Linked DNA regions of Homo sapiens: region 2 is linked to region 1. The links come from fine-mapping of genetic effects on gene expression. A gene starts in region 1. The other region holds a variant in brackets. All regions are shown on one strand. Distances are from middle to middle. Region 1 holds the start of HNRNPLL (heterogeneous nuclear ribonucleoprotein L like). Region 2 overlaps GALM (galactose mutarotase).

Region 1 (4,374 bases):
TTTAGCTCCTCATGCCCTGGTGATGAGCTAGCTAGTATTTTCCTTATCAAAGGACCTACTGTCACTGTCTGAACAACTCATCTGCAACAAGCTCGCATTTCACCCATGGTTAACGAACTGATTGGTGTCCTTTAAAAATGCTTTCTAAGTTTTACTCCCTCAATATTTTTTTTTTTACTCAACTGGGCTACTTACAAAAAGAACAAAGTTTAATACTGGTACATATTGAATTCCACCTGCTGTTTGTGAACGCTGAGCACAGCAGCCCTAGGTTTGGCAAGGCTGGATTTCCTTACCCATTGGTGTGACAGTTGCATTGTAATGTGGTATAATCCATAGGTTGAATGCAGGGCTTTGAGAATTTAAAATATTTGCATCTTCACAAGAAATATTTGGAAAGTTTGTATAAGGCCTAGTAAATCCAGTTGTGAGTGAATAGAATTTACCAAACTAAATTCACCTAGCATATGAAAATGTACATAAAACAAAATTAACAGGTAGTTGCTCATACTTAACAAAAAGATATTTAGTGCTTCTCATCACACTCAATTATTTCACATAATATTCTATTGTTTTCTTTCTCCTAAAAAATAATTGTTTTAAGCTCTCAGCTCTTCTCTTTTAATTTGAGCAAACTAAAAATATCTTGAGAATGGCCCATCTCACCTCATCAAAGAAGTTTCCTTTGTATCAAGTTTATTAATTCACTCATCCTTTCCTGATCTTTGATACTGAGACTGCTATAAAAAGGACAATGGATGCTAAAGATAACACGTGAAGTAGGTTTGTTAGACCTTTTTTTTGACCCTTGGTATCTTCAGCTTTCTGAAGGCCAGGTAATGTCTGCATTCTGAATATGTTAGGGGACATATGAATCCATAGGACATATTTTAAGCAGAATTGTATCATTGTTTCCCTTGTTGCTATTTTACTTTCCCAAACCATTGCAGAGCTTTTTGCCAATGACATTTTCTCATCCGCAGCCAGCTCTGCCACTCTTTTGCTATTTCTTCTGTCGACTTCCATTTTAATTTAAAAAATAAATTTATAATTTTTTTAGTTCTGTTTTGTCAATGTATACCTGCAGCCGCACACACATTTGATTATAGCTGCATAGTGTGGAAAATCTTGCAATTAGATTCCAAAATGACAGCCGGTGTAATTTACAAAGTACAAAAGTGTTATGTTAAAGCACTCTCAGCAATAAATAAAAATAGCTTTTTTGGAGGAGGAAATAACTTTGGAGAGAACTAGGCTGGAGGAGGAAGCAATCTACACTCTTAGGAAAGGAAGAGCCACATCTAGGAAAGCATCCGAGGGACAAGGACAACAGAAACACAAGAGGCTCTTGATCTCAGGCAGTCCTCCAAGAGGCACCTGACAGAGGGCAGTTAGGTTGCCTTGATTTGCCAGTTTCTGTCCTGAAAGATACACTGGACCTTTATTTCCCAAGGACTACTCATTCAGCATTGTTGAGCACCTAAATTGTGCTGGAGATCGCACAGGAACTGGGCTTGCGAAAATGAAAATTGCACACAGTTCCTGTCTTCAGGCGCTCACAGAGTTTTTAAAACAGAACATCTTAAGAGGGAGTTATAAGGGGCCCTGTTGCAAAAAGAGAGCAGCAACTAAAATCTTGGAAAAGCCCTCAGGACACCACAGAGGAAGCAAGCTGTGATCACAGAACTTTGAAAGGCTTTTGTATCTTTCGACAATAAATGATCAAGTGAAGTAAATACATTGTCCAGAAGAGAAAGAATTGGGATGGAGGATGAGATTTTATATGGAAGGATTAAAACATATTTAACTGGAGCAGGGACTTACAGGGACAGGCAAGTCAGTAAAGGGCCCAGGTTACAAACGAGTTATAACCGATCAGACCGACGAGCGCCCGCGTGCAGCGCCTCCTGCCGACGCGCGCCTCGCAGCCTTCAGTCAATGCTGACAGCTGTTCTCCAACACCCAGCTAGGGGCGGGAGGGTCCGCCCACTTCTACCAGATTTTGCACACAAAACAGTGGAAAGACCATTCTCATGGCTCCAAGCCGTTTTCTCCCTTCATCGCCTGCAATTTTAGGGCTTTTCGGGGGGTATGACTGCAGGGATTTTAGAGGTTTTTTTCCTCATTCTCTTTTTAAGAGGTGATAAAAAGCATTTAAATTAGCGGCAGGGCGGTTAACACCCGCAGCCCTAGCCTCTCCGCACTTCTCGTCGCTCGTCCGTGTTCACTCCACGCCTGGCCTCGGGTAGGAGCCGCATAGCGCCAACGGTTGCGGGTCGCAACTACTCCCAGGCGGCGCGCCTTGCGCGCCGGGCCTCCCAGGACCGCGGCGAGTTCAGAAGGCGCGGGGAGAGAAGTGAGGTCGAGCAGCGGGCGGCTTTTGACGAACGGCCCTCACAGCCAATGGGAAGCCCGGTCGACTTTCCCGCCCCTGCCAATAGGGAGCAGAACCCGGGCCGGGGGGGGCGCTTCCCGCAGGCTGCGGCTGGATTCGATCCTGCGCGACGGCCGCGAAGGCGGGGGCGGAGGCTCGGCCTGCGCGGCTGGGAGCGGCTTAGGGGAGGAGGGAAGACCGGAAGCCACGGTTGCGTCCCCATCCTTAGATTCGCTCCTCCGGGCAGGGAGCGGAGACGGAGGAGGAGGAGGGAGAGGCTGAATGTTGGCTCGGTAATTGAGAGGAGCGGCCGCTCCAGAGCTTCCTCCCGGGGCGCCCCCCTCAGTCCGTCCGCGCTTCTCAGCCGCCAGTCTCCTGGCCGCGCAGTCCCCGCGGACGGCCGGGCCGCGGAGACCCTCGCAGAAGAGGCGCTGCCGGCGGCGAGGACTGGCCGGCGGCATCCGAGGCGCGCGCCCCACCGCCACCCCCACCCGCCTGCCAGCCGGTCCCTCCGGCCGCCGCCATGTCCTCCTCCTCTTCCTCCCCCAGGGAGACGTACGAGGAGGACCGGGAGTACGAGAGCCAGGCCAAGCGTCTCAAGACCGAGGAGGGGGAGATCGACTACTCGGCCGAGGAAGGCGAGAACCGCCGGGAAGCGACGCCCCGGGGCGGGGGCGATGGCGGCGGCGGCGGCCGGAGCTTCTCTCAGCCGGTAACAAAGCGCGGCCCCCCTGTCCGCTGTGCCTGGCTGCTCCCCGGGAAGCAGGGCCTCGGTGCGGGGCCTCCCGCTTGCTTCAGTTAGCCTTTTCCGCTGCGCCGACCCGTTTGGGGAAGCGCCCACTCTTCTCTTTGGGGCTCGTATTCTGGCCTCTACCTGTTTCCCGCATCCCGACTGCGAACCCGGCGCCGTCCTGGCCGCAGGCCCCGCAGCGAGTCCACTGCCGGGCCCTGAACTTGGGGAGGGTCGCGGCGCGGCGGCGGCGGCGGGGAGGCGTCGCTTCCGCTCTGGGGGGTTTCGCGGCTCGGGGAGCTCTTTGTTAGTTTAACTCCTCGGGCTCGGGGCCAGCGTCGGGACCACCGGTTCTCTTCAGTCCCTCTGCCCGCAGCAGCCGCGCGTTGGTCACCATCCCGGGATGGTTGCGTCGGTTCTACCGGGAGCTCTCTCCGCCTCGGTCCTATGGAGACCCGTAATTAAATAACAGATTATGCCTTGGCGTTCACATGCTAGTTCCCTTGAAGGTTTAATTTAAAAAATTTTAAAATTAAACTCTTTATAAGCATGGCGTGCATCCTTTGCTCTACCCAATTTTGTGGATTACTCAGTACACTTTTTACCTCTTCGGTTACAACACTTCAACAGAAGTGTTGGCAGCTGTTGGTACACCCCTACCTTCAAGTAAAACAAATCTTAAAATTACTAAAGTTTTTCATTGGTAATTTATTCCACATTTGCCCCATGAAAGGATGAAGTGAGCTCAGGGTTGCATTAAACACACATTCCTAGAGCCAGGTCTTTCTCTTACCAGAAATGTTAGGGGGAGGCAGAAGGAATGTGATCATTTTGTCCACAGCAAGTAGTTAGCTTCAGTTGGATGGAGACTTTAAGGAAACAAAGCGGAGCAAACGTTATTGCCCTTTTTTGGTGCACTTAAGCGGTTTTAATGACTTAGATGTTATTTAAACATTTAACACATGAATTGTGATTAATTCTGCAAACTTTAACAGAATTACGAAACTGTACACATATATCCTACTATTAGGTTAAAAGGGTTTTTACCTTACCTTTTAAAAATAAGACGCACATTAGAAGCCCTTTATAGCCGTTTGAATTTTTAAATAATAAAAAAAAAGGCTGGTCAGTCACCCAGCGTTGCAGTTTCCAGTTACCAGGATGTGAGAGCAAACTTTGCAACACATTTAAAAAAGGAACTTTTTCTCTCAGTCTTGTTACGGTGTTAGCTATTACTTTAGATTTTTGTGCCGAGCTATTTGAAATATTC
Region 2 (4,389 bases), 100 kb before region 1:
ATTTTTTTTTTTTTTTTTTTGTAGAGATGGGGTCTCGATATGTTGCCCAGGCTGGTCTCGAACTCCTGGGCTCAAGCAATCCACCTGCCTCGACCTCCCAAAGTGCTGGGATTACAGGTGTGAGCCACCACGCCCAACCTGGGGTGAGATTTCTAAAATGCCAATCTTGACAGGTCAGTTCCCAGCTTAGAATGCTTGAAAGCCCTCCATGATCTAAAGTTAAAATTCCAGCTGGGTGTGGTGGCTCACGCCTGTAATCCCAGCACTTTGGGAGGCAGAGGTGGGTGGATCACGAGGTCAGGAGTTCAAGACCAGCCTGGCCAACATCGTGAAACCTCGTCTCTCCTAAAAATACAAAAATTAGCTGGGCAGGGTGGCGGGCACGTGTAATCCCAGCTACTTGGGAGGTAAAGCAGGAGAATCGCTTGAACCTGGGAGGCGGAGGTTGCAGTGAGCCAAAATCGTGTCACTGCACTCCAGCTTGGGCAACAGAGTGAGACTTTGTCTCAAAAAAAAATCAGCCTGATGTGGTGGTGCACGCCTGTAATCCCTGCTACTCGGGAGGCTGAGGTGGGAGAATAGCTTGAACCCAGAGCGGGAAGTTGGACCACTGAACCCGGAGGGGGAGGTTGCGCCACTGCACTCCAGCCTGGGCGACAGCACAAGACTCCGTCAAAAATAAAAAATAAAAAAAATCCCAGCTCATCGGCATGGCCCAGAAAGACAATCATGACTGTACCCAACTGTAGGGCTGGGCAAATGAGGTGCCTAGGGTGCAAAATTTAAGAAGACACACACTCTCAGGTGCTGACCCTGCACATGCACGACCCTGGGAGTGGATGCTGCCTTAAATTTTGCACCCTAGCCCTTGCTCTGCCCAACTGTCTCTTTGGCTTATTGGCTTAACAGTCATCACCACTCCTGCATTCTGTGCTTTGGTACTCTCACTCTCCTTGTGGCTAGATCCTCACAGACACTGAGAGGCTTCTCACAGCTCAGGACAATCTTGAGAATCCTCTTTCTACCCTGGCTTCTACACTCCTTCAGTCCCACAGGCATTATCTCTACAACTGCTCTGACCACATTAGGTTCTCCCCATCCCTCTGAGCTTCTCAAGGGCAGAGACAGTGTTCCATCCTCTTTATCTCTCAGGCAGCATGTAGCAATCAGTAGGTGCTCTATAAATGTTAGCTGAACTGAATACAAATCTGCTCTGGGAACTTACTTGAGTTAACATCAGGTCCGTTGCCCAAGGCCCACAGTCCCACTAAGCCCCTTCAGAATGTAGTGACCACTAAGGATGGCTATGCACCAGGAATGAACTAGAGGCAGCCCTTGTCCAGACCTGGGCTGGAGGAAGGGTAGATGTGAACCATCAACTCTCCAAGGGTGGTGGTCAGAGCTCTAGCAAATAATTCCCCTTCTGACAAATTCACTGACTGTTAGCCTGCAATTTTCACAGGAATTACACATCGCCTGGCCAAGTGCTAAATTTTGAGCTTTCTTCCTGCCAGATTTCTACCATGCTGGTTCATGTTTGCCAATCTTGTAACAGTAATGTGTTTTCCAGTAGGGAGCATGAGTAGCTTCAGGAGTTATTCTAGAGGCTCATAAAAATGATCTTGTGACCATTTTACAGGAAGGATTCAGTAATGTGCCGTCTTAAAGAATACCACTGCTACCAAGAGAGGTCCTTGGAGTTTTTGCATTAAACCTTGAATACTATCTAGCAGGGACCTATCATACAATAAACAGCTCTAGGGTAAACACATTTCATAGGGTCCAATGTCATGAGTTTAACTTTTTTACTGTTGTCCAAGTACTTTCTTATCTGTAGCCTTACTTTTTTTTTTTTTAATGGAGACAGAGTCTTGCCGTGTCACCAAAGCTAAGTGCAGTGCCCAATCATAGCTCAATTTGCCTTGAACCCCTGGGTTCAAGCAATCCTCTGCCTCAGCCTCATAAGTAGCTGGGACTACAGGTGAATGCCACTGGGCCTGGCTAATTTTTTGATTCTATTTTTTTGTAGTAAAAATGGGGTCTCTCTGTATTTCTCAGGTTCTTGAACTCCTGGACCCAATCAATCCTCCCGCCTTAGCCTCTCAAAGTTCTGGGATTAAAGGCATGAACCACTGTGCCCAGCCTCAAAAAAAATATTTTTTAAATTAGCTGAGCATGATGGGGGCATGCCTGTGATCCTAGCTATGCAGGAGGCTGAGGTGGGATGACCGCGTGAGCCCAGGAGGCCAAGGCTGCAGTGAGCTATAATTGCACCACTGCACTCCAGCCTGGATAACAGAGTGAGACCCTGTCTCTAAAAAAAAAAATAATAAAATAATAAAAAGAGAATACATAGTAGGGCAACCATAGACTATCATTACTTTGAAAGAGGAAAAAAGATAAGAAAACCCCCTTTGTGGGCCAAGGTGATGCAGCAAGTTCACAAAGGATTTTACATAGAATTTATTTTATTTTATTTTATTTTATTTATTTATTTATTTATTCATTTATTTTTTGAGA[C/T]AGCGTTTCTCCCTGTCTCCCAGGTTGGAGCACAGTGGCACGATCTTGGCTTACTGCAACCTCTGCCTCCTGGGTTCAAAGCAATTCTTGTGCCTCAGCCTCCTGAGTAGCCGGGACTATAGGCACATGCCACCACACCCAGCTGATTGTTTTTGTATTTTCACAGAGAGGGGGTTTCAACATGTTGCCCAGGCTGGTCTCGAACTCCTGATCTCAGGCAATCTGCCCACCTCAGCCTCCCAAAGTGCTGGGATTACAAGCGTGAGCCACCACGCCCAGCCTTGGATTTTATATAGAATTTAAAGAGCTCATGATCCCCTTGAAGTTCTTTCATCATCTTCCCAGACATACAAGAACCCTAGTTAAGAATATCTGGGTTAGAGATTCTGTGCGGTCTTTGAATCAGGGTGTAAGAAATGGACAGGACCTCAGAGTTCAATGAATATAATCCTCATCAAGTCAGATTTTACAGATTCAGTCAATGAGGCCCAGAGAATTTTCATGGCTGACTCATAGCATAGCTAGTGGATGGCAGAACGGAGACCTATATCTTGGTTTTCTGAATCCCAGTTCTCACACAGTGTTGGGCTAATATACCGTGTTTAAGGCTGGGTGCGGTGGCTCACGCTTGTAATCCCAGCATTTTGAGAGGCCAAGGTGGGTGGATCACCTGAGGTCGGGAATTAGAGACCAGCCTGACCAACATGAAGAAACCTGTCTCTACTAAAAATACAAAATTAGCCAGGCATGGTGGTGCATACCTGTAATCCCACCTACTTGGGAGGCTGAGGCAGGAGAATCGCTTGAACCTGGGAGGCAGAGGTTGCGGTGAGCTGAGATCGCACCATTGCAATCCAGCCTGGGCAACAAGAGCAAAACTCTGTCTCAAAAAAAAAAAAAAAAAAAAAAAAAAAAAAAATATATATATATATATATATATATATATATATATATATAAAATCCCACATATCATCCCACCTCAGCCTCCCAGCCTCCTGAGTAGCTAGGATCACAGGCACACCCCACCATGCCCAGCTAATTAAAAAAAAAATTACACATATTATATATATATATATATAAAAAGTATATATATATAAATAAAGTGTATATATATATATAGTGTTTAAAACAAATGTAAAGGAGAGAGGAGTGTGGAGAGACTGGCTGGGGGCAAAATAAGCAATAGTTAATTCCTAGGATGTATAGGTTGGCTATTACTCAGCTTCATTTTTGTGTTCAGTATAGATTAGTTTTCTAGCTTCAACCCGAAGAGACCAAGCCTGAAGCTCCCTTCTAGCTCCCTACTTTGGATCTGTGACTAAATCCTGATGGATTATCTGAGCAAGCTCTGTGGAGAGGCAGATAGCAGAGACTGGCCACATCATGAATTCTAAATGGCTGATGTCATTACAAAAACCATAAGCAAGAAAGAATCTACAGTTTCCAGAAAGTGGGGGGAAAAGTTTCTAAGGAGAAAGTATGACTCTTGAAGAAGGAGGGTAAGGGTCATGTAGCAAAGAAGAGGTTATTGGGTGGTCTCTGTAGGCTGGGGGTGGGAAAGGGATGCACAGCAGGGTGGGGTGTGAGGGAGGCATGCTCGGAGATCATTTTTGTTTTTGTTTTTTGACCAGTGAAATGTTCAATTTTTTTTTTAAGTTTTAAAATTTTTAAATTTTTATTTTTTTGATCAGTGAAATGAGAGATGGTTTTGGGGAGGCCTGAGAGCCGTCTAAGAGGTTTATTAACCTGGAGATTATCAAAGTAAGATTTGCATTTTAGATAGATGCTTTTACATGGAAGATAGATCTTAAGATTTTTTTTTTTCCAGTTAGGTGTTAGAGTGCAGTTGTCCAGATTATGAATCATTCA

What was found. PIP is the estimated chance that this variant, and not a neighbour inherited with it, causes the effect. A credible set is the group of variants that fine-mapping cannot tell apart.
Region 2: its variant is the best candidate, but not a certain one, in a credible set for the expression of HNRNPLL in blood mononuclear cells (TOPMed, PIP 0.77).

The regions. Positions count from the first base shown.
Region 1 is chr2:38,601,150-38,605,523 of GRCh38, reverse strand. It overlaps HNRNPLL (heterogeneous nuclear ribonucleoprotein L like), which reads left to right and starts at 2,596. Exons shown (of 13, transcript NM_138394.4): 1 at 2,596-3,086. The coding sequence starts at 2,898. RefSeq lists silencers at 2,417-2,486, 2,707-2,756, 2,777-2,876.
Region 2 is chr2:38,702,143-38,706,531 of GRCh38, reverse strand. All of the region lies in intron 4 of GALM (galactose mutarotase), which reads right to left. The region is part of intron 1 of LOC124905993 (a long non-coding RNA gene); the gene reads left to right. Among named protein-coding and RNA genes, the nearest start is that of GALM, 38 kb to the right of the region's middle. The variant C/T (reference allele first, on the strand shown) is at 2,521.